Linked DNA regions of Homo sapiens. The protein of the gene in region 2 purifies or fractionates together with the protein of the main gene of each other region. This does not show direct contact. Each region holds a gene or a part of one and is shown on either strand. Other genes may lie near its edges.

The links.
Region 1: the proteins of LIPA (region 2) and NAA15 fractionate together in Homo sapiens (co-fractionation; one large-scale study listed by BioGRID). This does not show direct contact.
Region 3: the proteins of LIPA (region 2) and NAE1 fractionate together in Homo sapiens (co-fractionation; one large-scale study listed by BioGRID). This does not show direct contact.
Region 4: the proteins of LIPA (region 2) and KIAA1217 fractionate together in Homo sapiens (co-fractionation; one large-scale study listed by BioGRID). This does not show direct contact.
Region 5: the proteins of LIPA (region 2) and ITPK1 fractionate together in Homo sapiens (co-fractionation; one large-scale study listed by BioGRID). This does not show direct contact.
Region 6: the proteins of LIPA (region 2) and GAL3ST2 purify together in Homo sapiens (affinity purification with mass spectrometry; one large-scale study listed by BioGRID and IntAct). This does not show direct contact.

Annotation. Positions count from the first base shown.
Region 1 is NC_000004.12:139,339,505-139,343,004, reverse strand, and holds part of NAA15 (N-alpha-acetyltransferase 15, NatA auxiliary subunit), read right to left. Parts: intron 2,094-3,500; coding exon 1,936-2,093; intron 180-1,935; coding exon 45-179; intron 1-44. UniProt on the Homo sapiens protein: Auxillary subunit of N-terminal acetyltransferase complexes which display alpha (N-terminal) acetyltransferase (NAT) activity. The NAT activity may be important for vascular, hematopoietic and neuronal growth and development.
Region 2 is NC_000010.11:89,231,276-89,234,775, forward strand, and holds part of LIPA (lysosomal acid lipase/cholesteryl ester hydrolase isoform 1 precursor), read right to left. Parts: intron 1-3,500. UniProt on the Homo sapiens protein: Catalyzes the deacylation of cholesteryl ester core lipids of endocytosed low density lipoproteins to generate free fatty acids and cholesterol.
Region 3 is NC_000016.10:66,813,977-66,817,476, forward strand, and holds part of NAE1 (NEDD8-activating enzyme E1 regulatory subunit), read right to left. Parts: coding exon 3,449-3,500; intron 3,053-3,448; coding exon 2,989-3,052; intron 2,697-2,988; coding exon 2,605-2,696; intron 1-2,604. UniProt on the Homo sapiens protein: Regulatory subunit of the dimeric UBA3-NAE1 E1 enzyme. E1 activates NEDD8 by first adenylating its C-terminal glycine residue with ATP, thereafter linking this residue to the side chain of the catalytic cysteine, yielding a NEDD8-UBA3 thioester and free AMP.
Region 4 is NC_000010.11:24,541,138-24,544,637, reverse strand, and holds part of KIAA1217 (sickle tail protein homolog), read right to left. Parts: intron 1,946-3,500; coding exon 1,868-1,945; intron 1,756-1,867; coding exon 157-1,755; intron 1-156. UniProt on the Homo sapiens protein: Required for normal development of intervertebral disks.
Region 5 is NC_000014.9:92,937,926-92,941,425, forward strand, and holds part of ITPK1 (inositol-tetrakisphosphate 1-kinase), read right to left. Parts: 3' UTR 602-3,500; coding exon of another isoform or gene 558-601; 3' UTR 1-557. UniProt on the Homo sapiens protein: Kinase that can phosphorylate various inositol polyphosphate such as Ins(3,4,5,6)P4 or Ins(1,3,4)P3. Phosphorylates Ins(3,4,5,6)P4 at position 1 to form Ins(1,3,4,5,6)P5.
Region 6 is NC_000002.12:241,775,444-241,779,621, forward strand, and holds the start of GAL3ST2 (galactose-3-O-sulfotransferase 2), read left to right. Parts: upstream 1-1,378; 5' UTR 1,379-1,512; coding exon 1,513-1,541; intron 1,542-4,178. UniProt on the Homo sapiens protein: Transfers a sulfate group to the hydroxyl group at C3 of non-reducing beta-galactosyl residues. Acts both on type 1 (Gal-beta-1,3-GlcNAc) and type 2 (Gal-beta-1,4-GlcNAc) chains with similar efficiency.

The DNA.
Region 1 (3,500 bases), on a different chromosome or scaffold from region 2:
TTATACTTAGGATCAGACTTAGTAAAATGGCTTCTAGTTATTACCTGTTGTGTTTTCCTAAATTCTTCTAAAATCTTTGCTGCCATTTCATAATCTTCTAATAAATGGTAAGCAATAGCATAACCAATCCATGATGCTCTCTGCGCAGGTCGAAGCTGAAGTAACTGATACCTCGTTTCCTTTAAAAGGAAAAAAATAAACACTTTTTCTTAGGCTTTTAGTAACAGCAAGTGCTCCTTTAAAAGATCTCCATATTAGGCCAGGCGCAGTGGCTCACGCCTGTAATCCCAGCACTTTGGGAGGCTAAGGCGGGTGGATCACGAGGTCAAGAGATCGAGACCATCCTGGCCAACATGGTGAAACCCCGTCTCTATCAAAAATACAAAAATTAACTGGGCATGGTGGTGCACGCCTGTGGTCCCAGCTACTCAGGAGGCTGAGGCGGGAGAATCACTTGAACCCGGGAGGCAGAGGTTGCAGCCTGGCAACAGAGCAAGACGCCGTCTCAAAAAAAAAAAAAAAAAACACACATTAATTTATCCCACAACCCCAAGCATTTTACAACACAATGATGGGAACAATAATAGAAAATACTTCAAACATCCATATTGTGTAGCTTTATGGAGGCAAAGAAATATTTGTTAAGAACATAATGAAGCCTCCAAGCTAATCTTAGAATTTTTTTAAAACTTAAGACCAGATTTAAGTTTTTAAAACTTAAGACCAAACTTAAGACCCTTCTTTATTTCTTGATCTGCTCAGTCCCAGAAAAGAGGCAGGATGGAAAGAACAGCACAAAGGAAAAATATTCAAAAATGTTTTTAAAAATTAAGTGTCCAACTACAGAGTTAACATACATAAAGAGGAAAGAATATGAAAGAGGAACTAAATAGATCTAACACTAATTTAAGGGTTAAAATCGAAGCTACAAAAATATATTAGAGTCAGTGGAGGTAGAAAGAAGAAACAAAACATTTGTTTTTGCCAGGTGCAGCAGCTCATGCCCGTAATCCTAGCACTTTGGGAGAATAAGGTGGGGTGGACTGCCTGAGCTCAGGAGTTCAAGACCAGCCTGAGCAACATGGTGAAACCTCATCTCTATTAGAATATAAAAAATGAGCTGGGCATGGTGGCACATGTCTGTAGCCCCAGCTACTCAGGAGGCTGAGGCATGAGAACTGCTTGAACCCAGGAGGTGGAAGCTGCAGTGAGCCAAGATCATGCCACTGCACTCCAGCCTGGGCAACAGAGTGAGACTCTAATGTCTCCAAGAAAAAAAAAATTTTTTTTTTGTTTTGCTTTCCAGAAAAATGTGGGAAGTAAATGTTAGAGTTACATGTCAATACTAGACAAAGGCATTGTTTATTTGAGGAGTACTGATTTTCTTTTTTTTTTTTTTTTTTTTTTTTTTGAGACAGAGTTTCGCTCTGTTACCCAGGCCGGAGTGCAGTGGCGTGATCTTGGCTCACTGCAAGCTCCACCTCCCGGGTTCAGGCCATTCTCCTGCCTCAGCCTCCTGAGTAGCTAGACTACAGGCACCTGCCACCACGCCTAGCTAATTTTTTGTATTTTTAGTAGAGATGGGGTTTCACTGTGTTAGGCAGGATGGTCTCGATCTCCTGACCTCATGATTCACCCACCTGGGCCTCCCAAAGTGCTGGGACTACAGGCGTGAGCCACCGCACCTGGCCTGATGTTAATTTTTATCAAATTAAGTCAACCCTACACAGTAGGCCAAATCTGCCTCACCATAAAATAATTTATTTTTAAAGATCTGATTATTCCAATCATAAACATAACCACTGTGGTAGGAGGAAAAAAAAATTCAATTAAATTATTTTCAAAATGAAATAAAAAATTTATGTATCTGAAAGTACTCAAAGTTGTACATATTTTCCCCTTAGAATTAAAAAAAAAAGTCTCTATTTTACTTACCCTGTAACCCTCAAGATCTCGCATTTGAATCTGTAGTAAGGAAAGGTCCCTTAAGATTTGAAGATTGTCTTTATCCCATTTTAGTGCATTTCTGTAACACTTAATGGCTTCATCATACTTCTTGTCTGACCTCTGAAGAAGGCCATAAACGTGCCAACCTAAAGAATTTAGTTAAGGGTACAACCTACAAGTCAAAAATTACTATTCCAAACGACCTCCCAAAAAACTTGGAGAACCACAGCCATTTATAAAACTACAAGCTTAAAAAGAAGGGGAAGGGGAGGGGGAGATTGATTTCAAAGATATAAAGCAGTTTAATACAGTGGAAAAGAGCACAGCTTTTGCAGCCAGAGAAAATTAGGTCTTGCCTACCTTATCAGCTCTGTAACCTTGGACAAATCAGTCTCATTAAGTTTCCTCATTACTAAAATGTAAACAAATAGTCTATGCAGCAAATCATACTACTGACAACTAAATGGGATAACATATATAAAGTGCTCACTGGCTGGCACAAAGTCAATATATATATATGTAAACAGTTACTATATTATTAATAGTAAAAGGAAAAAGAAGGAATGGGTCTTCATGGAATCCAGTTATGTAAAGTCATGAAGATTTTATTTTCTTGAACTAACAAGATTCTTAGGACAACCCTTAGTGTAATACAAAGTTTCTAAAACTCAGCCACATATAAAATAAAAACATTCATTCATTTAACCGTAATTATTAAAACTTCTTTCCCTTTTTTTGAGACAGGTATTGCTCTGTCACCCAGTCTGGAGTGTCGTGGTGTGGTCTTTGCTCACTGCAACCTCCACTCCCTGCACTCAAGTGATACTCCCACCTCAGCCTCCTGAGTAGCTGCGACTACAGGCACACACCAGCATGCCAGCTATTTTTTTCTATTTTTGGTAGAGATGGGATCTCGCCATGTTGCCCAAGATGGTCTCAAACTCCTGAGCCCAAGCAATACACCTGCCTTGGCCTCCCAAAGTGCGGGGATTACAGGCATAAGCTCCCAAACCCAGCCTAAAACTTCTTAATAACTAAGACGTAGGTCATCAAAATAGCCTCCTATATTAAAAGATCTTAAAGTCTAGTAAAGGACAGATAAATAAGCAAAATTAAAGTAGGTTGTAAAAACTGCTATCAAGGAGGAGAATATTCCACTTCCCAAATACAGCCCTTTTTCACTTTAGATCTTGATTACTGTACCAGCTACCCAACCCACCTATCTTCAGTCTGTCTTCTTTTATTCTCCTACCAAAGTAATTGGGTTTTGTTGTTTTTTGTTGTTGTTGTTGTTGTTTGTTTGTTTTTGAGATGGAGTCTCGCTCTGTCACCAGGCTAGAGTGCAGTGGCATGATCTCAGCTCACTGCAACCTCTGCCTCCCAGGTTCAAGCAACTCTCCTGCCTCAGCCTCCCAAGTAGCTGGGATTACAAGCGTCTGCCACCACGCCCAGCTATAATTTTTGTATTTTTAGTAGAGACAGGGTTTCACCATGTTGGCCAGGATGGTCTTGATCTCCTGATCTCGTGATCCGCCCGCCTCCTAATTATTGCG
Region 2 (3,500 bases):
ATATAGATTTGATAACTAGCAAATTGTTTTTAAATGACAGTTCTGCTGCAAGGTAGCTTCCGTAGACTACTCCGGAAGGCACTGCTCACATACATGAAAATATACATGGTACTCCCTGGAGTTGTACAACCTGGGGGTGCTATACCCTCGTGTTGTTAAAATAGCAGGACCCCAGGCCAAGAGTATAAAATGATTCCCATAACTTTTTTTTTTTTAAGAGAGAAAAGGTCTCATTCTATCACCTAGACTGGAGTGCAGTGGCATGACTGCTCACTGCAGCCTCAAACTCCTGGACTCAAGTGATCCTCCCACCTCAGGCCCCTGAAGAACTGGGATTACAGGTGTGTACCACAACATCCAGCCAATTTTTTAAAAAACTTTTCATAGAGATGAGGTCTTACTATGTTGCCCAGGCTGGTCTCAAACTCCTGGCCTCAAGTGATTCTCTCGCCTTGGCCTCTCAAAGTGCGGGGATTACAGAAGTGAAACATCATGTATGGCTGGTGTGATTTTCTAATCACAAAATAGAAATGCCAGGGCCATGCAGGTGAACTTCTACCCATGGGGAGAAAATAGAAAGCAAACTGGACAAGATTAGGGCTGCTTTATGTGCTCATCTTTGCCTTCAAAGGTTCATTTTAATGCAATATTAACAAGACTAAATTTACTACGAAAAATGTAAGTGGAAGGCATTGTGGTAGATACAGCGTCTTATGCACAGGCTTCTTGGCTTCAATGAAGAGGATGATAATCCAGCTGGGAAAATATGAAAATTGATCATTAAAAATCCAAAATTATAAACTGCAGTGTAAGTGACAATTATAATTACCAAAATTAATTTATCATTAAATTATAGTTGAAAAATGTGTAACTACAGGCACCATCATCATCTCATGGTAACTGTACGTGAGAATGGTGACCGGGCGCTGTACGATGCAGTGGCTCTGCTGTACTGATGGTGCCCAACACTTTCTAGAAAGAGGGGCTTTCCTGCTCATGTCACAGCTCTTTAGGTATGTTGAGGCACTTTTCACCCACCAGGAGTGATCAGGAGCTAGGCCATGAGTAAGGTGACTTGACTTTGAAAGGCCAGGAACGGGCTGCTCCCACAGGTCAGGTCATTTCCAACAAAAACGACTGCAATCGTCTTCCCTCAGGATGGAGAGTCAGAGAGAGGCAAGAGGAAGGCTCGGTAGGTGGCCTAATTCCTTGGCACTTGTTCCAATCTGTGCCTCTGTAGTTAACACGGAAAACATGGGACTGCCTAGTCTACTCCTCAGGGGAGAGTGTCCAGAGAAAGGCAGGAATGGTTTGAAACCAAAGAGGGCCCTGGGGCAAGGATAATTGAGAGAGGAGAAGGAGGGTGATATGTGGCAGCCAGGCCAGGACAGAGGCTGGAAGGGGAGATGTTGGCCAGCACATGGGACCAGGACTCAGCTCCCCACCTTCTCTCGATGGAGAATGTTTAAAATTTCCCTAAAGTCTCTGTACTTCCCTCTGTAACCTCTAGAGCTTTGAATGGGGAAATGTGGAAGCTGACAAGTTGAAGATACATCAGGAAAGTCTTTAAACATCCCCAATAAATAACTCCTGGATTCCCAAGGGCAATGAGGAGCTGCTGCAGTTTTCCTGGGAGGTGAGTGTGAAGAAAGGAATGGCCTGTGGACAGCTGGAGCATGTGCTACCCAGGAGACCACGCCTAAGGTGGCTGTGCAGCTTCTAAGAACATCGGTAAATACCCTTGTTCCACCCAGACCGAATTCACACCTGCACAACGCTTTTCTCAGGGAATTACTTTATCCTTTGAAGGAGGCTTCCAGAGAATAAGTCAAAGACACTATTTTTCTAATTGTCCTTTTTTGTTTGTTAGGGTTCTTCCATCCCCTACTTCAAGCTGAATACAAAAGCTCAATGAACAACAGGCACAAAAGATGCAGCAGATGGGAAGGAAACAGTGAATCTATTCTTTACAAGCTAAATGTTTTCAAATCTGGAGAATCTGGGCCAAGCACTGCAAAGGGTACTGCAGACCACACTGTTTTCTCATGGGAAATGCTGGCAGATGAGGAAAAGGGCTGATGAAGAAAGGTAAACGTCTGACAAATGGCATGGCTTTAGAGAATGGAGGCCACTCAGCTGTGTCCTCCACATTCAGGTGAAAAGTTTTTAATGGAAATCTGCTGTATCTTAAGCAGTGCACTAGAAGGTAAAATATCAAGAAGTGATTTGAAAACATACATTACGTTTCGTGCAAACCTTTAGTGGTGCCTACTGAGTACCAGCCACTGCTATTAGGTTGTTGCAAAAGTCATTGTGGTTTTTGCCCTTAAAAAGCAATGGCAGGCCGGGCACGGTGGCTCACGCCTGTAATCCCAGCATTTTGGGAGGCCGAGGCGGGTGGATCACCTGAGGTCAAGAGTTTGAGGCCAGCCTGGCCAGCATGGTGAAACCCTCGTGGTGGGTGCCTGTAATCCCAGTTACTCAGGAGGCTGAGGCAGGAGAATTGTTTGAACCCAAGAGGTAGAAGTTGTGGTCAGCCAAGATCGCACCACTGGACTCTAGCCTGGGTGACAGAGAGGGATTCCATTTACCCCCACCCCCCACAAAATAAAAAAGCAATGGCAAAAACCACAATTACTTTTGCCCCAAACTAATAGATGCTAGGAATGCAAAGATGGGTAACCCACACTCCCTCCCACAGGGAGCTCCATCCTCGAGGGAGTCAGACACACGATGACTGTCTAACCCAGCAAGAAGAAGGCTAGAACACCACTCAGGAAGTCCCAGAAGAAGGAGAAAGTTACTTGGCCAGTGGGACAAACATTTGACCTGGATTCTAAGTAAGAGACAGATGTTTCCACAAAGGGTTCTGGAGAAAACATAGGAGCCAGATGAATAAAGAGCTGACACTGCACCCAGGCCTTGGCCAGATGGGACCAGTGTGCACATGAAAGCCTCCCTGCCTGATTCTGACGCGCAGCCAGGCTGGGGAACCACTAGGAAAAGTCCAGTGCCTTGTCTGACCTGGGGACACAGGGAATAGGAAGGACTTCATGGGGTGCACATCTTTCCAGGCTGGGCCAGTTTCCTTTCATCCCAGAACAAAAAAGTCTCTTCTGAGGAGGGAGATGCAGAGGATATAACTTACTGAACTTCTAGAGATGGCAGTTCCATTAGGCATGACGGATCCTCAGCAAAGAAAATAGTATCGAATCCTCGGGTGAAAAACCTTTAAAAATGGCTTCCAAACCTCTTGCCCCTTCCCTCTGGCATTGGGTGAATACAAAAGGGAATGGAAAAGACTGGACGCTGGAAGCAGGCCCAGCCAACTGTTGCCAGCTTCTCTCACCTGCTCCCACCAGGGGGAAGAAAGGAAGGTACAATGTGGTTCTTTCCCATCCCACCACCAAAGAAGGATTTAAGGATTGACTGGCAAAGGATGTTTCTCTCTGGGAAGGTAAAACCTATTGCTGTTCACATCTTCCAGTGAACTATTTCAG
Region 3 (3,500 bases), on a different chromosome or scaffold from region 2:
TATAATTTTATTTAGAATCAGTACCATATGAAGATTTGATGGGGAAAGAATGGAAGAAAGACCTCTCCGGCCCACTGTTGCTACCATTTAATACCTATTCTCTTATACCATAAATGGGGTAAAGAAGGGGCCCCAGTAAATTATTTTATATAGTTACATCTGAAGACAAAACAGATTATAGACTCGCAGTATATCATGATTTTCCATCTTGTCAAAAATCTGAAACCCTTGCACCCTAATTAGTGACCGTTGAGACAACCACTCTGAAAAAAACTAAAACCATAAAGTAATTTTATTGCTAGCAAGATCTTCATACGTTAATCAAGAGTATAAAGCTGAGCACAATGGCTCATATCTATAATCCCAGCATTCAGGAGGCCAAGGTGAGAGGGTCATTTGAGCCCAGGAGTTTGAGACCAACCTGAACAAAACAGGAAGACCCCGTCTATAGAAAACATAAAAGTAAATTAGCTGCGCGTGGTGGCACGTGCCTGTGGTCCCAGCTACTTGGGAGGCTGAGGTGGGGGGATCACTTGAGCCCAGGAGGTCAAGGCTGCAGTGAGCAGTGATTGTGTCACTGCATTCTACCCTGGGCACCAATGTGAGACCCTGTCTCAAAAAAAAAAAAAAAAATACACACACACACACACACAAATCATAGGCTTGGATTCTACTGATGGGTGGAAAAAAGAAATGTCTCAGTGGGACCTCCTAACTGCTCTCTCTGCTTCCACTCCCAGTCCCCTCAATTGTGTTCTCCTCATGAAAGCCAGAATGGTCTTTTAGAATACAAAGCAGCTCAATCCACTTCCCTGACTGAAATGCTTAAATAGCCTGCAAGGCCTTTATGATCTGGCCCTTTCTGCCTCTCCAAACTCAAATCCTTCCTACCACTTTTCCCCCTTTTACACTTCACTCCAATCACACTGACTTGCTTACTGATGCTTGAACAAAAGTCAAGCTTCATCCCACTTCTGGGCCTTTGCACATGTGCTCCCTCCAACTGAAAAGCTCTTCCACCAGACCTCTGCGTGTCACTTCACTCAGGCTTCTGCTTAAATGTCTTTTGGAAAGTCTCCCTGGCTCCCTATGTACAATTGTCTCTCAACCCCGGATTCCCTTGTCCCCAGCATGCTCTCTGACCCTTTGTTCTGCTGTAATTTTGTTCACAGCACCTGGTGCATTTTTATCTGTTTATTTAGCTTACTGCCCCCCAACTATTAGAATCTTTTCTTTTCAACTGTGGTTTTATATTCAGTGAAATACAGAGATTTCAAATGTCCAATTCAATGCATTTTGATAACTATATATACATATTTTTAACCATAACCCCAATTAAAACAGAAAATGTTCATCACCCCAGAAAAGTGATTCACAAAGCACATTTATTTTTTGGACACAGGGTCTCATATCATTGCCCAGGCTGCAGTGCAGTGGCACAATCATGGCTCACTGCAGCCTCAACCTCCCAGGCTCAAGCGATCCTCCCACTACCTTAGGCTCCAGAGTAGCTGAGACTACAGGTGCATGCCACCACACCCATCTAATTTTTAAATTTTTTGTAGAGACAAGATCTCCCTACGTTGTCCAGGCTGGTCTTGAACTGGGCTCAAGCAATCTTTCTGCCCTGGCCTCCCAAAGTGTTGGGATTACAGGTGTGAGCCACCACACCTGGCCAGCAAACACTTTTTTTTTTTTTTTTGAGACAGAGTCTCGCTCTTGTTGCCCAGGCTGGAGTACACTGATGAGATCTCAGCTCACTGCAATCTCCACCTCCCAGGTTCAAGCGGTTCTCCTGCCTCAGCCTCCCAAGCAGCTGGGATTACAGGTGCCCACCACCATGCCCAGCTAATTTTTTGTATTTTTAATAGAGATGGGGTTTCACCATGTTGGCCAGGCTCGTCTTGGACTCCTGACTTCATGTGATCTGCCCTCCTCGGCCTCCCAAAAGTGTTGGGATTACAGGTGTGAGCCACCGCGCCTGGCCCCAGCCAGCACACTTTTAATCACTCAGCAACACTGCCTTGTTGTCTCTAAAAAGTTGGTAATAATATCTTACGTGCCTTCCTAACTTGAAAGGCAGCATATTTGCTGTTTTAAGTTACAAGAAAATTCTAACTTAAACTACCAGGTGTTATTCCAAAGCTCCCCAAAAACTTCAATGGTCAGACCTCAACAACTAAGCCATAACAAAACCAAAGGCATCTGAGGCGGAGTCTTACTCTGTTGCCCAGGCTGGAGTGCAGTGGTGTAATCTTGGCTCACTATAACCTCTGCCTCCTGGGTTCAAGTGATTCTCCTGCCTCAGCCTCCCGAATAGCTGGGATTACAGGTATGTTCACCATGCCCAGCTAATTTTTGTATTTTTAGTAGAGACGCGGTTTCACTATGTTGGCCAGGCTGGTCTCGAACTCCTGACCTCAGGTGATCCACCCGCCTCAGCCTCCCAAAGTGCTGGGATGAGCCAGCATGCCCGGCCCTGTATTTATTTCTAACTATACATTTAGAAAATATTAACTTAAATCATTATAGTCAACCATTTAATAGCCAAGGACTCTAGAAAACATCTTGTTCATGTGAATCCCTCAGCAACTCTTTCATTACCTGAGTTGTATTTAGTGCTGTGTTCACATTTTTAATAGCTTCTTCAAAATTCTCTTCATCTTCTGGAGCCCCATTTTCATTTTTTAGAATTCCTATTGTAATGGGAAATTGTTAGCAAACAGCCCTTTTCTTTTCACTCTTCTGTTCCCCCATTATAAAAATAACCTTGTCAGATCCTGCAGAATATTAAATCTTAAGAAGAAATACGGCTTATCATTAGTCCTTAAAACTATACAAGGCGTGGCTTCTTAACTTCTCCAGAAGGAAAATAAAAGCTCATGATGCTATCATCTGACAAAGGTGTTAACAGAAATCCAATAAGTACCTGCCTCTAGCAATTTGCTTTTCAAGCTTTATACAGTATTTAATCATATCCCATATTACCTTGTCTAATCAAATCTCTGAAGTCCTCTTTTTCTTTATACGTTTTAGGTATTCGTCCATTTGTCTAAATTGGTTAAAAATTTTAAAAATCTAGTTATTAAAATTCAAAATACAGAAATTGAAAGTCTAAAGTGTCCCCCATTCTCTACATAAGATTTCATCAACAAATATATTTCTCTGTGAAATCAGAGGCTCACTTGATAGAAAACAGACACTGTGACCATTTATCTACATTCATTCCCCCTGCCAGTTTCATAATGACATTTATTGAATTTCATTTTAATTAAAATTATCAGGATCAAAAGAGGAACTGCTAGATTTAAATTTAAAAGCATCCATTTGCCCTACCATACAACTCCATAAGGAAAAAAAATTAATCTCCCATTCCCCATCAAGGAAATCCTTTGTAAGAAACTGAAAATACAGTTGCATATGAAATTTTTTTTAAAAAAGGACATACTTCACTATACCACTGTGCTAAATATTTAGCTATGATCACAATCCATGGAGTA
Region 4 (3,500 bases), about 65 Mb from region 2:
AGAAAGTATGAAAGAAGGGTTTCATGGCGAACAGACAAAAAAAAAAAAGCCACCTGAAAGAAAGCAATTAAGTTACAAGACACCTTTCACTAATGGTGATTATGGCAGATTTAGGAAAGCAGCTGGGTCTTTTCATTTTCCAGCAGACCAAGATACCTTACGTGAAGCTGAAGGTATCGACGTAGGGGGCTCTAGGGCAGTGGGACCTTCATCCGGAACTAGCAAGGGTCGGGGAGAGGCCTCTTGGGCTATGTGGGATGAACTTGCAACAGAATCTCTGTTGGAAGAACATGAGGTATCAACTAGGGCTTTGGGACTCATTTCACTGATTGTATTTTCGAGCTGTTTAATGGTCTGCTCCAGGCTATCCAATGTTCTGTAGGTGTTTTTTCTAATTTCATCAGTTCTTGAAATCGGAGATGTACTCTCGATGCTGGGCTGCTCTTGCCTCCTCACTGTGTTTTCAGGGGTGTCTTCAGGTTGAGACCTAGCGATTTCGAAGCGCTTGGCTTCTTTGTGCTGTTTCAGGGTGCCATCCTCTTCCTCTTCTTCATAGACTACCACTTGCAAAGTCTTCTTCCCTGTTTTAGTTCCGGTGCGAATGGCTTGAGTGAGAGCGGCGAGTTGCTTCTTAGGGAATTTGAATTTAAACTTTTTCTTGGGGCTTTCAAACTGGTCATCGGTCGCGTCCTCACCCTTGCATTCCGAATTTGGAGAATCCACGTGGCTGAACTTGTTCAGCTCCGTTCTGTTCATTTCCTGTCCTCCTGGGTTTCTGGTCTCTGTGGCCAGGGAGTGTGGCTGTGACTTTGTTTCCACCTGTTGTCCGGTTCTAAGATTGCCTGGGGCCACCTTCTTATGAGACATCTGGGAAGTGTTATTATTCTGGACTACAGAATCCCCATTTTCCTCCTCTTCCTCCTCCTCTATCTTTTCCTCCATCATCATTCTCTCTAATTCCTCATCACATTCCTCAAAGATAGTTGAAAGTCTCTTATAGGCAGACCGGATGTCCATGGGCTCATCGAAAATGATGATCACTGGTTTCTTGTCCAGGCACACGACTGGATCCTCATTGTCAGTCCCTTCTTGTCGGGGGGTCATCTCTTTTCTGGCATCGATATTAACCGTCTGTATGTCTTCTCCCTTTTGGCTAACAATATCATGCACCTCCCCACTGGAAAGAACCTGGACAGTGGTTTCGGTAATCATGAAGGCAATATTGTCAGTGGCTGCATTTTCTTCAGTGGGAGAACTTGAACTTGATTCTCCATCCTCATTAGGGTTCACGTTAGCATGCCTTGCCTCCTTGGGTCTTAGAACAACTTGGCCAAAATCTGTCGTGATAACCTCTTGATCTTCTGTTTTAAAATCATGCACGCTTGATTCTGTTAGTCTAGTGTGAGAGGAAACGTGACACTTATCCGTATTTTGCTTTTCCATCTCCTTTGTCTTTCCGTAATTCAGCGTCTGGTTCTCGGTGTCAGGTATAGAGTATTGCAGGCCTGAGATTTTAGACCCTTTGTTTATTTCATCTTCTAATGGACTAATGCCAGAGAAACCGAAACTGGCCTTAGGCACAGTTTCCTGGGAATAGTTTCTACTGTCTCTGAGTAAACTCATATTGGATATGGAATTTTCCTTCATTATGATCTCAGTTTTATATTCTGATGTTCTTGATGCATCAGAAATACTATTCTCCATTCCTCTTTCCCACTTAGGAGGGTCACTAGGTCTTACAGCCCCTGTGGTAACCTGAGAGGGAGAACGGAGGAGGGAAACCACACACGTTAATCAGCAATGGATCTGCAGAGGCAGGTACTTAATGTGCATGGTATTGGTCGGAACCCAGATCTGGTGAACTCACCTTTTGGAATTCCATTTGGGGGCCATTTTCATATTCAACATCAGATTTCCGTACATCTTCATGGAAAAATTCCAAATTCTGGTAGAATAGTGTAGGACATGTTACTCCACAAAACCACATCCCCCCAAAAAAGTGGACTATAACTAAATCGTTCCTTTAATTACATTTCTAAGACATGCGGGCCACGCATATTTCTTACACACCAATCCAAAGCCTACAGCTGTTTACCTTGGATTGCTTTGTTCTCCAACTGCCAAAAATGCCCTGTGTTTGCACAAGATGAAAATCTCAATTAGCAAAAGATTTCAAGAATTTAAAATTTTGTAGGGGAGTGGTGAAGAAAATAAAGGGACAGAGTCATTACTAACATGTCCTCTTTTCAACATCAGATTGTGAGCTTAGCAGAATTTAAAACCTGAAGAATTGTGAAAAGCACAATGTATGGGCTGACAGAAAGTTTTGATCCTAATCAAGATCTGCCACTAAACTGTGTTACTTTAGATAAGTCACTTTACTTCTTTGGCCTCAGTTTTCTTGCCTATAAACTTAGGAACCAGCCCAGGGGAATTTTAGTTCCCCTTACAGCTCATTATTTCAGTCCTCCCTCTGCTTCTGTTATGGAGATTATCCTATAAAGACATCTGCCTTGGTTGGGTTTGGCATTTGGGGACGAAAAAACATTATTTTCCCCTGATCAAATGACAGATTGAAATGCAGTTTGTACTGCAGGTGTCGAAGTGCCAAAATAACCTTCACACTCCTCATAGCCACGATGACCAAATCCAAATTCAGAGTGATCATGCTGTTACAATATAACCTCAATTCATATCCATCATGCTGTTACAATAGAACCTTGGTTCATATCCATCATGCTGTTACAATAGAACCTAAACATTCACAAAGCAGATATTTGAGGTTACATTGGTGACGGTGACGTCACGACTCAGCTTTCATTCTCTATATTTTCCAGTGTAGACTGAAGATACATGTCTTAGGGTCTCACCAAGATTCAGGAGTGAAGGATCCAGTGGTGAGGACCCAGGTATTCAAGGCGCTTCACCTGGAGGCCTGGCCTTTCCCAAGGTGTATCAGTAGCCTCAGGCCCTGACATAACACTAACACTAGTGATGCCTTGTCGGTTCCAAGGCACTGCTGCCCTTTCTTCATGCTGAGGTGATTGATTATAGCAGGATGGAGCACAATTCCCATGAAGGCTGCTTGGTTAAAGCAATGACAACACAAAGCACAAACACCCGGGCCCAGCCAAAGTCAACCCAGAGCAACCCCTATGACCTTACTTAAGAATGGAAAGACTGTTCATACACGCCTGAGGAATGACACACAAACAACGCAGTCAGAATTAATCACACGCAAATACTGTGCAAAGTACAAGGTACACGAGCCACCAAATACCTCCTGTTTTACTTCTGCTTGCTCCCCAGGAAGCCCCCAAACAAGTGCCATGATTCGGCTGCTGCAGCGGAGCCACATGGCTTCTTTTGTGGGATTTTAAATTTAAAATATGAAACAATGAATACGTCAAGTAAAAGGTTTTAAAGAAGAAAAATAATTGAGCTTCCTGTAATCCCAGCTACTCGGGAGGCTGAGGCAGGAGGATTGCTTGAGTCTAGGA
Region 5 (3,500 bases), on a different chromosome or scaffold from region 2:
CCGGGGATCCCACCGGGTGAATGATCAGAGTTTGTTTGTTTGTTTGTTTGTTTTTTGAGGAGTCTTGCTCTGTTGCCAGGCTGGAGTGCAGTGGTGCGATCTTGGCTCACTGCAACCTACGCCTCCCGAGTTCAAGCAATTCTCCTGCCTCAGCCTCCCAAGTAGCTGGGACTACAGGCGCCCACCACCATGTCCAGCTAATTTTTGTATTTTTAGTAGAGATGGGGTTTCACCATGTTGGCCAGGATGGTGTCGATCTCTTGACCTTGTGATCCACCTGCCTCAGCCTCCCTAAGTGCTGGGATGACAGGCGTGAGCCGCCATGCCCGGCCAGAGTTTCTAGGGAATAGAAGAGAGGGCAGATACAGACCCCAGGGACATTAGTGAAGCCATTCAGCAGTTGTGGCCAGTGGCCAATGTGAGTGCCCAAGAGCCAAGAACTGGTCTTCCAGGCTAGAAGGACAAACGACAGGCTGGCTCCCTTGGTCTTGGGGTGGCTGTCTGGCAGGCAACAGCTGCTTTGCTCAGTTGGCTCAAACATGTGACAGCTTCCTACTTCAGTCGGTCTTCCAGCCTTCTATAAAGCACACTTGGCAGTCCCCTGGGTACAGAGAGGAATGTTTTTCCCAGGTTGCTTTCTCCTTTATTGACAGGCATGAGACACAGGCAGGCCCAGGCACAGGAAGCCCCATGGAACCTGCCAGGTTGCAGCTGGGTCCAATCCCGCCGGCCATGCTGGGTGACTGCAGGCCCAGCCCACCCACCACGTGTGGACCCAGACACCTCCATGACACCAAGGGCAAAGCACCAGTTCCAGGGTGGCCTCCCCTTGGCTCTTGGGGTGGGGACACCCAGCAGCTGGCACTCAGTTGGGGGGTTATGTTTGCAGAATCACATCACCATATAATCAAAGCACTGTCAGGCAGAACTTGACCCACGGCCTCAGCCCCAGGGTGCTCAATGCAGACTGTGCAGGTGACCCTCTGAAACTACCCAAGGACTCAGCCAAAGTGTGGTCTGGCCCCTTGCTCCTGGAGCCCTTCAGCACATCCAGGGACCACCATCAAGACAGGCACTGCAGGGCGCAGAGCCAACGTGCTGACCAACTCAGAAGCAGAAGCTTAGGAACCAGAGCCCCAAGCCACCCCGATGCTGGCGGGGCCAACTCCAGGCGCCGTGCCTGCACAGCACCACACAACAACCTTTGCTAAGTGGGTCCCTTCCTTGGACCCAGACACTCTCAGTGACTCTGCTCAGGAGGCAGCGCCACCATGCTCTGGAGAAGAGGAGGCCGCCAGAGCCCGGGTGGTTTTAGTGGGTCTTTCCCTGAGGCAGAAACTCCAAGGCCAGGGACAATGTGACCGAAGGGGAGACAACTCTATGGACACTGTCCAGGGATCAAAGATGGTCAGCGTGCACCCTTAGGGTACGTTTAGCGAGCTGGGCTCCATCTCTGCCGCTCCCAGGTGCGGGTCCCGCGTCGCTGTCCAGGCCCCTCATTGCTGACACTCCCCTGGCTTCACTGGGCAGAGTCCACCGGCCCCCCAGCCCTGGGTGTGGCTGGCCCCTCCCTACCTCCCATGTAGCTCCCAGGCCTTTACGAAGCAAATCTCCATCCTCCATCTCCACTCTTGGAAAATGCAGCTGCCCTGCACACCCACAGCCCCGCCCCCGCCCCACCACGGAGGCCTATGGACGCCACCACGACACCACATGGCAGTTACTCGGTATCTGGGCCCTGGACGCGCAAGACCCCGGAGGCCACAAACGGTACAGGAACACAGCCAGGAGTCACGCTGCACACCCCCACCCGTACCTGAGGCAGACTGGGATTGAAATTTTATTTTTAAAAGGTAAAGCTGTTTTATTAAACGTCTTTTAAGGACTGGGAGTATGACATAACAAACTTGAGCAACATGTGTAAACACGTGTGAAATGCGGTTTGATTTCAGTAGTTTATTTTGGAGACAAAGCAGTGCAAGAGGCCAGCCACGCTTTCCTGTTCCCCAGGGCTCAGGGTCAGAACTAGGAAAGGTGACGTACAGACATTAATCGGGGTTCAAAACTCAAGTCGTGTAAACGTGGTTAGTTGTTGGGTCCTCAGTTTCCAAAAAAGCCGGGCAGTTCTGATGGCCTCTGCCCCTCGCCCAAGCCCTGTGCCTCCCTCCTCAAAGTGGGCATCCTGCAGCCCAGCTGAGCCAGGCCGAAGGACCTCCATGCACTGGCTCGGGGGCCTCTCTCGGGACACTCAGCACTTTCTCTAGCGTCCTCCATCTCACTGGGCAGAGGACAGCCCGGAAGCCTTTTTCACTTTTTCAAAGTAAACTGCTATCTTAAGACACAAAAACATACTTGTGGGGGCTGATGCCTCTCACCCAGCACCCCACATCTTCCAGGACTGCAGAGGCTTCTCCCCAACCCTTTTCTCTGCAGAGGGGGCTGCCTGGATCAGGGGTCAGACGGCAGAGCCAGTGCTTTGCTGCCAAGGTGATGGGGTGAGTCTGAGGTGTGCAGAAGCGATGGGGGGCGGGTGGCTCCCTGGCACCTGCTGGCTCAGTGCTTGGGGCTTGCAATGAGAGGTGGACCAGGCCTGCTGGGTGAGGAGGGACCCAGCAGGTGTGAAAAGGAGTGAACCCACTGGGAAGAGGGCCCCGATCTCCATGGTGTCATGCCGAGGCTCCCGCGCCTATCCTCACCTAGGTGACTTTATGGAAAGGCAGGCTGCATCCCAGGGGTTAGGGCACAAAGCCAGCCCTGTGGTGCTCTCTGATCTCAAATGTCCACTAGAGACAAGGGGGTGGAGGCCCAAAGACCTGGAATGATTTGCCCAAATCACAGCACAAATCCTCAGCACAGGCGCCATCGGCTCGGGCCTCCAGCCAGGCAGCCTCCTTCCCGGGCTCCAGGGAGCAGCAGTGCTGGCTTAGGGGAAGGAGACCGCTGTGCAGGGCTAAATGGGACGTGTGTTGGGGGGCCCAGAGGACGCCCAGCTTCCTTTCCTTCCCTTTAGTGAGGGAGCACAGCCCAGACCCCAGCGCGGAACTCCCCTGAGGGGTCTGTGGCCTCCTCTGGCTGTGGGGAGGGAGGGGTTAGCTGCACACCAGGCAGGGTGGGGGCTAACAAAGCCTTGGTGGAGACCAGTAGGAGGAAAAACAAGGAAGGGGCAGGTCAGGGAGTGGGGAGTCAGGCAGAAGGGAAGCCACTCTCACATGCACCGATCAGCCTCCCACAGCCCGACATGGGCAGGCTTCCCCCAAGGGTCCCGGTCCACAGTGGCCATGGAGACCAACAGACAGGGATGTGCACAGACACTGGCATGGCAGCCATACGCACACCCCTCACCTCCCATCCAGACCTAGTGTTGCAAACACAAGCGTGTGTAAACTCAGTTAGGAGGTCTGCACAGTAGAGAGCAGGCGGACGGCCCCACTCCCCAACGGTGGACCACCTGGTACTCTCTTCCATCCCCCACTACCCCTCATTTAGATCATGACATCAGA
Region 6 (4,178 bases), on a different chromosome or scaffold from region 2:
TGGGGTAAGGACCCATGAGGCGCCATCTTCTTTGTTCCTAGGCTGAGCCTGTGGTGCCCTGGGCAGGGTGGGTGGAGGAAGCAGCAGGGAGGCTCCTTAATGGTGGAGTGAACACCCACACGGATGTCTCTGGATAGTGGAATGCGGAGGATGCAGGGCACGCCGGTGGAGAGCTGCCCAGCCGTGCCAGCAAGGCCCCGGCATCCCTCCCACCTGCCGTTAGCACCGGGAGCTGCTCTGCTGGCCCCTCCCACAGACTCGGGCTCTGGAGGTCTACAGAGCAGCTGGGAGGGTGATGCCTAGGCGGGGGCGGAGATGCCAGGCCCCTGGGCTGCAGGTGGAGGTAAATGGGGAAGGGAGGCTGGGGGTCTCTGGGCCTTTCGCCAGCAGCCGCCCAGCCCAGGGTCTCTGATGCCAGGGAGGTCCATGTGTGCTCGGCCCCTCCTCTGAGCCCCTCAGCCCAGCCTTGTTTCTGCCTCCATGGCTATGGGGCCTGCACCCATCCGAGCCAGGCACTGGCTAGGGCAGGGAGGCTGCCTTGGGCTGGGGCCAGTCCCGGAATCCAGGCTCAGCTGGCACCGACAGGGAGGGGTTGTGGGAAGGTGACCAGCCGTGTGGAGAGCTTGGCGTCGGAGGGCATGGTGGGCACCAGCGCTGGTGGGATGTGGCGAGGGTGGTGGTGACTCATGGCGCGTGGCCCGTAGCTCTGAGGAGCATTTGCGTTTTCCTGTGGATTCACTGTAGCGCCTGGTCACAATGTTGCAGCATTTCCCTGGCTGCTTGTCTCGGAATTAATATCTATTTCCTGAAAAGAGAAATGAACTTTCTTGCAGTAAAATCTAAACAAATATTTATATTTATTTTCCACCTCCATGTCCTGTTTCAAACTTATTGTCCAGCCCAAGATTTTAAAAAGTCAGATTTTCTTTTGGTGTGAAGCAGGCTCAGGAGGAGGAGGAGGGGGAGGAAGAAGAGGAGGACGAGGAGGGGGAGGAAGCTGGGAATTGGGCTGAGCTTTCCTCGCTCATCCTTGCAGTGGCCACAGGGCCCTCTGCCCTCTCGTCTGCGTCAGGTCCTGAGTTCTGAGTCCAGAAGCCGTCGCTGTGCTGTTGGAGCCCACCAAGCCCGTCCCTTGTGGGGACAGCTCCCTCCAAGCCCCCCGGGGGGATGGACACTGAGGGTGGGGCAGGGGAGCAGGGGTAGGCCCCAGGCAGGTCCTCCCAGGGCCTGGGGAACACAGGGGCCCATCGAGGGCTCCCCAGACTCCCTCAGCCAGTTCTTCCCGAGAACAGAACAGTTAAAACCAAGCCCTCCGATGGAGGTGCGGGGAGAGGGCGTGGCTCCCGTCCCAGGAGGCAGGTGAGCTTCTGGGGATTCCAGTTCACCTGCCCCACAGCCGCACCCTGCCTGTGCCTGCACCCTGGGGAGCCCAGAGCCGGCAGGGGCCGAGGCGGTGGGACCTCGGGGGAGCTCAAGCCTCGACTGTCCCCTCGCTGGAGGCCAGAGGCCAAGATGATGTCCATGCTGGGCGGCTTGCAGAGGTAAGGGGGGCAGTTGGACCCCCCAGGTGGACAAAGCGCTTCATCTGTGGCTATTCTGAGAGACGGACAGGAGTGGGTTTTGTTTGTCTTTCGAAGGAAGTGACTTGGATTTGGAGGCTGTTCCTACTCAGGCTTCCCTGAATTCACCTGTCTTGGCTTCGTTTCGGAAGTAGGGGGCCCCTCCTGCCCAGGCCTGGTGCTGCTTCTGGGTGTTTGGGGGTTCTGGGATGTGGGGCCCAGTGAGAAAGCTGCCCCCCAACACTGTGGCGTGGAGACGCTCGAGTGTCCGCGTGACGGCTGGGGAGGGTGAGACCTGCTGGGCTTGGGACCTCCCAGCCTCGGTCTGCGGCTCAGGCCCATGGCTGGGCCGTGTTGGTGGGAGTGCCAGGCGCTTGCTGGAGCGTTGGTCATGCGTGCGCTTCAGGATGCTCCCGGGGCTCTGGGTGGTGACGGGGAGGCTGGGCTCTGCTGTGCTGTCTCCCTTCTGTAAACAGAGGGGAGGTGGATTTCTTCCCAGTTAGGTTTGGAGGGGTGGTGGGTGTGGCTAAGGATGCCTTGCGTTTTCCTTCTCCTGCTCGCCATCCTGTTTGGGGTGATTCCAGGGCAGTTTGAAGCCGTCCCTGCGCTGGCAGGTCCCTGCCTCCCCGGGGCGTGTGCCGCCATGAATTCAGTTACCTTCCTTTAAGGGGTGACTTAAGACCAGCTGCCAGGACACTGGCTGAGGACACCCCGTCACAGGGCTGAGAGGTGTGGGGCCGGCTGCCTGGCCTGGACCATCCTAGATGCCCCCTCCTGTGGACATTGTGACCATATTGTGAAGAAGAGGCCCAGGGGCTGGGGAATCAGGCTCACTTGATTAGCTGGTGGCCAAGCTAGGGCCCCCCTGGCTGCCCTGGGGCCCCCCGAGGTCGGCCAGGGCGGGTGTGCCTGACCCCAGCTGAGACTCTGTGGGTGAGACATGGGAGGCATTGCAGCCGAAGGCCCTCGGGGAGCCCAGGGCACAGGCTCCTCAGCTGCTGGTCTCACTGCCTGGCAGGATGGGCTCACTGCAGCAGCCCATGCAGGCTGCACGTCCCACACTAAGGCCAGGGAGCTTTGGCTCCGGGTGTCCCAGGCTTCATTGAGCACGGCCTGCAGGAGGGAAGCCCCGAGTCACTTCCCCACAGCCCTGGACAGCAGCCTTCCTGAGCCTCGCATTTATTTTCCTGGGGTTGGGCAAGTGTGGGAGGCTCACCTCGCTTGTGTCAGCTTGCTTGGCCTGTGGGTGGAACAAATCAACAGCCCTGGGGACAAAGGGGACGGTAGTGTGTGGTGCCACTGGCACCCACCTGGGTGATTCAAGGAGCTGCCCAGAACAGAGGAGAGACTTTGCCTGCGCTAGTGAGGCCTAGTCTTGACCACCGGCCACGGGAAATCCAGGCCGCCGGGCAAAGTGCTCACTTGGATGCTTGCTGATCTTTTGTTTTGCTGGTGATGATTCAGGCACAAAACTCTGAGCTATGGCACTTGGGGGTGTTGCCTCCCTGGGGTGTGGCCAGGTATCTTTGGGGAGGAGGGGACTCATGATCAGAGAAGATGTGGTACAGAGCCCATGGGGGTCACCATGCCGGTGTGAACCCCCAAAATCTGAGACAGGTCTCGGTTAATTTAGAAAGCTTACTTTGCCAAGGGTGAGGACGTGCACCCATGACCCAGCCTCAGGAGGTCCTGATGACGTGTGCCCAAGGTGGTCAGGGCACAGTCTGGCTTTATACATTGTAGGGAGACATGAGACATCAGTCCGCATATGCAGGACGAACATTGGTTCGGTCTGGAGAGGCAGGACGGCTCGAAGCAAAGGCAGGAAGACTCCAAGTGGGGAGGGGACTTCCAGGTCACAGGCAGGTAAGAGACAAATGGTTGCATTCTTTTGAGTTTCTGATGAGCCTCTCCAAAGGAGGCAGTCAGATACGCATTTATCTCAGTGAGCAGAGGGGAGACTTTGAATACAATGGGGGGCAGGTTTGCCCTGAGCAGTTCCCAGCTAGACTCCTCCCTTTAGCTTGTAGTGATCTGGGGGCTCAAGATCTTTTCCTTTCACATTTCCCCCCATTTTCTCTTTAAAATCTTGGAGAAAGCTCTCCAAGATTTTAGAAGAAAATGAGTCTCTGGTCCCAGGTTTTGTCTTATCTCTCATGGCTAGGATAGTTTATTTCTAGACGGGCAGGTCCTGAGTTACTAGGAAAGCTCATTTTTTTTTTTTTTTTTTTTTTTTTTTTTTTTTTTTTGAGACGGAGTCTCGCTCTCTCTCCCAGTCTGGAGTGCAGTGGAGCGATCTCGGCTCACTGCAAGCTCCGCCTCCCGGGTTCACGCCATTCTCCCGCCTCAGCCTCCCGAGTAGCTGGGACTACAGGCGCCCGCCACCTCGCCCAGCTAATTTTTTGTATTTTTAGTAGAGATGGGGTTTCACCGTGTTAGCCAGGATGGTCTCCATCTCCTGACCTCGTGATCCGCCGGCCTTGGCCTCCCAAAGTGCTGGGATTACAGGCGTGAGCCACCGTGCCCGGCCCTGGGAAGTTCATTTTTTAGCAGGTTGTGAAGTGTCAAGTCCTAGGAAGACAAAATAGGAGAAGGAAGGAGAAAAACAACAACAAAGAA